2 separate regions of the Homo sapiens genome follow, and region 1 is linked to region 2. The links come from fine-mapping of genetic effects on gene expression. A gene starts in region 2. The other region holds a variant in brackets. All regions are shown on one strand. Distances are from middle to middle. Region 1 overlaps CRYBG1 (crystallin beta-gamma domain containing 1). Region 2 holds the start of CRYBG1 (crystallin beta-gamma domain containing 1).

Region 1 (2,914 bases), 180 kb after region 2:
TCATTCATGTTTTCGGTTTTTTCACAAATTCCCCTCTACCCAGAATGACTTTCCTTCCATGAATGTTATGCAACTAAACCACATGCTTCAACAGAAGTGAAATGTTTAGTATTAGATGAATAAATCCCCTCTGAACTCAAGCTATAGAAGGAAAGACTTAATGAAAAGGGTACTTCGGTAAGAATCATTTCAAAATCTCAGATCGCTTGCTCGTGAGCCGTACATTCAGTTTTTGAAAAATTAAACCTGTTCACTTGTAAAGAAGTCAGACTTGGGACCTGCTTGGTTAGCCTAATACCATAATGTGTTACAGAACTGCCATTATTTTGTTAGAGAACAAAATCCATGGGTACTGTGCCTGTGATAGCTTTGAGCTCCAAAATACATGTAACGTATCCTTGGCTGTCATGCTTTAAACATAAGGAAGTGTAAAGTACCCTATTCTTAGCGTCTGTTTTCTTGTGGTTTAGAAGCATTACAGTAGTATTTAAAAGATAAGCCTCTTTTTTTCCTTAAGGTAACTTTTTTTGAAGCATAACATTTGTACAAAAAGGTACATAAACCCTAAATATATAAGCTGAGTGAATTTTCACAAAGTGAATACACAAGCGCAGTCACCATTCAGATCAAGAAAAAGAACATTCCCAGCATCGCAGAAACCCGTTTCTTTCATGCGTCCTCACGCCCTCTTCCCCAGGAACCATCATCCTGACTTCTAACACTGTAGTTCTGACCTCCTACCCATATCCCACACCTGGCCTCCCAACATTCTTTCATGTGTGTGTTGTCAAATCATCAGTAGGAGCCTGGTTGTAAATCTCTGTATAATTAGAGAGTCTAGAGAAGTTACCAGTTTATCCAGCGGAATCTTCACAAAAACCACCGCCAAAAATGTGCCTTGGGCCAAAATTGGGAAGAAGAAAAAAGCAAAGAGGGAGGGGTCAGACCCGTTTTGTTGGTAAAAGATTTCATTTACAGCCACTCTCTTCTTGGCATGGTGTTCTGGGGAACACAACATGGTGGAGTACCACGGCTAAAACATTTTAGCAAAACTAACCGAATTGATGAGTGTAAGTGATCACTAAGAAGTCTATGTTTGTTTATGAAGCAGGTACATTAACCCCTCTCTTATAGAAAAGTCACTTCTTCAGCATCCTCACCTTCTCAGAACCCTTCCCAGGAACGAAGATGTTTACAAGAAGACCTTGTAAAGTTTAGAGACAGGGCTAGTAGGCATGGTTTTCTGGTTTCCTGATTTCTGGCACATTAGAGGAGGGTGGGGCTGCT[G/A]GTTCCCCAACTGAAGCAGAAGTGACAGCTGACAAGCTGATAGAAGGGTGTGGTATTGAAAAGCCATAACAATCAGAACCAAGAACTCAAAAAGCTTTGTGGCCTGGGAACAAGCAGCCCCACAGAACTTCAGAGCCCCTGAGGACACCACTGTGCATTAAATAATGCTCACAGTGATGATCCTGAGTAACTGTGAAAAGAGTAAACTGTGTTCAATGCACTTCCTGCAATGAGAAAAATTGCCATCACAAAAATGATTAGGGCTGGGCATGGTGGCTCACACCTGTAATCCCAGCACCTTTGGGAGGCCAAGGCGGGCGGATCACCTGAGGCCAGGAGTTTGAGACCAGCCTGGCCAATATGGTGAGACCCCCTCTACTAAAAAAAAAATGCAAAACTTAGTCGGATGTGGTGGTGTGTGCCTGTACTCCCAGCTACTTGGAAGGCTGAGGCAGTAGAATCACTTGAACCAGGAGGCAGAGGTTGCAGTGAGCTGAGAGCAAGCCACTGTACTCCAGCCTGGGTGACAGAACAAGACTCCGTCAAAAAAAAAAAAAATTGATTAGGAACCTGGTTCTGGAATCGGCTTGAATCATTCCAGCCTTTCATACTTATAGCTGTGTGGCCTTGGGCAACTTACTTAACTTTATCTATAAAATGGGGACAATAGCTTCTCTTCCTCATAGCATGGTTGTGAGGATTAGATGAAGTTCTCAGTGGCATTCCTTGTAAGCTCTAGGGAGATGTTAGCTGTTACTAATGTTTGGCACCATGACAAATGATTAGATGGAACTTTGGAGCAATTAATAATACAAATTAAAATAAGGGGACAAAGCCAGCCAAGGAGAAAAGTAAAAGATCAAGAATAGGGGCATATAATGGCTTTATTTTTCCTTGAGTCTAGTGTGATTCTAACACCTGAGTCCAACCATTCATTATGTAGGTCCGTATCCTCTCCTGTTCTTTTCCTCTCATCCTGGGTACCAGACAGAAGGAAAAACTGAAACAAATGATGAGTCGGCTCCCTTTCTTTCCTTCCATGGTGGCTATTTAGGTGGCTGATTTATGAAGAACCTGGATTTCAGGGTGTTCCTTTCATCCTGGAACCTGGTGAATACCCTGACTTGTCCTTCTGGGATACAGAAGAAGCGTACATTGGATCCATGCGGCCTCTGAAAATGGTAAAAATGAAATCCAAATGTCCTTGTGGTGATTCTTTGTCAGCTTGACGTGGTAATTCACAGGGTGTGACTTTGAAGCAATAAAGCTGACTTTTAAGAAACAAATTTGTAGTAGATTGGACCTATTGCTCAATAGAAATCATGGAAAGAATAACTTGCTAGATGCTATAGATTAAAAAAAAAAAAAAAAAGGCAGGTAAGACTATGTCCTTTGTCTTTAAGGCATTCTCAGCCCTGCAGAGCTGCAGATGGGTGCGCAAAGCTTCAGCGCAGTGTAGGTTTAACAAGTGAGGAAAGTGAAGAATTAAACATTGGTGGAAAAACAGGACAAAGATACATACAATTCCAAGTTGTGGGTGATGTGACAGAAAAGGGATAATTAGGAAAGCTTCATGCTAAATTAAATTCAGTCTTAAAAAATTAGCAGGATGATTTTTTAAATGGAG
Region 2 (2,914 bases):
GACTTCAAGTGATCTGCCTGCCTCGGCTTCCCAAAGTGCTGGGATTACAGGCGTGAGCCACCGCTCCTGGCCTATAATCATACATTTAAAAGCCACATACGGAAGAATTTTCTAGGACAATGTCAACTCTCCATTAAAAAACTTTTCACACCCCAACCACATAAATATGTAAAAATTTGAGTTTTACCCTTATGATTTGTGCATTTTACTGTCTATAAATTACATCTTGATAAAAATGTAAATAAAAACAAATAAAAATGAATGTTCCTTGAATGAGTGAATAAACGAATGAATGAGTTGTGTTTTCAAAGAGGAAAATAAAGACATTACCGTGAAAGAGGATCTTGTACTGCATTGAATTTTTAAGTAGTGCTTAGTTCTTGCACTTTCTTTGCTCTAATGATGCCCAAAATAATTGTTCGTTTACTTACTTTGCTTAAGTATTAATTTCCTTTGCTATTTAGCCACGACTGTGAAGTTAAGACAAGAAAGTCATCAACAGTAATGCAGATGATGTAAATACCTTGTGGGACTGGCATTTAATTTACTGCGAGGGATCTATTAAGCTCTTGGGGAATTGGGGAATATGCCTAATTCCCTTCTGGCGTTTTTAATTTTTTTAATCCTTTTGTGTTTTATGAGATGTGAGTACAAATTAATTATTCAGACTCTTGAGAGAGGAGACGAGTTGGCGGAGTTGCCACCCGTGTTCACGAACAGGAACAGAAGCCACCAGCACATGACATTGCCCAAGCCACCCAGAGATCAGAGTGGAAGAGTCCTAATTGCTGGGCGGCCCAGCCCCGGGATGTGCCTCTCCCATCCTTCTCCAGGCGGGGCTCGTGGCTAAGCAGCGACTCACCCTGCCAGCCTGTCACAGGCCAAGAGCGGCCAACAACTCCGCAGGCGACAATGGCCGCTGCACCCCAGGCGCTGTGGAAGCCCGACCCGGCTCTGGGTCCCATCTTAGAGCCTGGGATGCAGTGTCGGGAGTCGCGGTGCCCAGAGCATCCAGTAGGTGTCGCTGTCCCACGGCCGCCGCGCGCCCCCGGGGTGGGGAGCCGGGGCGTGTCTGCCTCACCTGGGGCTCCCGGCGCGAGCGCCTCACCTGGGCTAGCGCCCCTTGCCGCCCGCGCCGCGCGGGGGCGCTCTTCCGCGGCTGGGTCCCCGCCTCCGCCCCAACAGCTCGGGCTGCAGTGCTGCTCGCGCTGCGCTGGGTGCTGGTTCTGCAACCCGCGGCCGTCCCCCCGCATCCGCGACGAGGGGGCGGGGTCCCACGGCGCGCTGAGAAAGGCGGGCGAGCTGGCGCTCAGGTGTGTTCTTCCATAGGGCCCGGGCGGCAGAGAGGACCGCGTCCCGGCAGTCGGAGCGGGAGGAGGACAAGACGATGCCGCTGTCCCCGCCAGCCCAGGGCGACCCCGGGGAGCCCAGCCCGTGCAGGCCCCCTAAGAAGCACACCACCTTCCACCTCTGGCGCTCCAAAAAGAAGCAGCAGCCGGCGCCGCCTGACTGTGGGGTGTTCGTTCCGCACCCGCTCCCGGCGCCTGCCGGAGAGGCCAGGTGAGCTCCTCGCCCGAGCCCTCCAGTCCCACCTCCTCCTCCTCCTCCTTCTCCTGCTGCGCTAGCCCTTGGACTCCTGACCCCACTTGGAGGAGGGGAAAGCCCCGGGGTCTGTTTCAGTCCGCAGGAGGGTACCCGGGTCCGGAGGGGAGCGATCGTAGCCGCTGGGGTTGACGAGGTTCCTCGCGGCTTTTGGTTCAGACCAAGCACCGGCGAGAGGAACTTGTGCCCACGCATGTGGCCTTTAGTATGACTGCAAAGTTTTCATGCAGGAGCCTCCCGCATCAGCCTGCTAACCAGAGCGGCGGGGAGTGAGGGTTGTTACCGTCCTAAATGATGGCGGGAACTCTGCTTTGGGGTTAGGCACTGCTTTTGAGCTAGTGTCTTTATTGTAAAGCTCTTTATTGTGAATATCTGTAAGATCTGTGCTCTTACAGATGTTATACCCCCATTCTCCTCGCAACATACGAAGGGAGGAGGAAGTGGCAGGAATGGTTACCCCCATTTCATGGGTGGAGGAACTGAGACCAAAGGATAAATGGCTTCTCCCCATTGGAGCCAGTGGCAGAGCTAGAGAGCACCTAGTTATCAAAACTGTAGTTACCATTGTGCTTTTTGATTTTTATCATGGTTTTGAAGTGGTTTTATTCTATATGTATAATTATTCAACTATAGCATCAGAGTTTATGCATTCGTTGAATAATAATCAATTTGAAGTAACAGCGTATTTACATGGCTCAGAGGTGTGAAATATTTATAGTGATGGACAATTGACAATGTCCAGTAAATCCTTCCAAATGTGTTTTTAAAATACACCCTATGAGGGCCAGAATAAAATTGTGCAAAATTTGCATTTTAGACATGGTTTTCCTTTTATTTCTTTCTTTCTTTTTTTTTTTTTTTTTCTGAGACGGAGTCTTGCTCTGTCACCCAGGCTGGAGTGCACTGGCCCAATCCCGGCTCACTGCAAGCTCCACCTCCCGGGTTCACGCCATTCTCCTGCCTCAGCCCCCGAGTAGCTGGGACCACAGGCGCCCGCCACCACGCCCGGCTAATTTTTTGTATTTTTAGTAGAAACGGGGTTTCACCGTGTTAGACAGGATGGTCTCGATCTCCTGACCTCATGATCCGCCCGCCTCGGCCTCCCAAAGTGCTGGGATTACAGGCATGAGCCACCGCGCCCGGCCTCTCCTTTTATTTGTAAAAAAAGTCAATTTTACGATCTATTTTCATTCACTTATTGTATTGAGTACCTTAGCTAAGTGCCATGTACTGCGATATAAAAAACAATGAGAGACAGGAATAATTGTGTCATCAAAGAATTGTTAGTCTCTTGTGGATACCAAAAAATGCA

The links. PIP is the estimated chance that this variant, and not a neighbour inherited with it, causes the effect.
Region 1: its variant is fine-mapped to the expression of CRYBG1 in whole blood (TOPMed, PIP 0.93).

What each region holds. Positions count from the first base shown.
Region 1 is chr6:106,537,062-106,539,975 of GRCh38, forward strand. CRYBG1 (crystallin beta-gamma domain containing 1) reads left to right here. Exons shown (of 22, transcript NM_001371242.2): 9 at 2,342-2,468. Among named protein-coding and RNA genes, the nearest start is that of RTN4IP1, 91 kb to the right of the region's middle. The variant G/A (reference allele first, on the strand shown) is at 1,288.
Region 2 is chr6:106,359,522-106,362,435 of GRCh38, forward strand. CRYBG1 (crystallin beta-gamma domain containing 1) reads left to right here and starts at 1,196. Exons shown (of 22, transcript NM_001371242.2): 1 at 1,196-1,560. The coding sequence starts at 1,388. RefSeq lists silencers at 997-1,206, 1,227-1,306 and an enhancer at 1,202-2,068.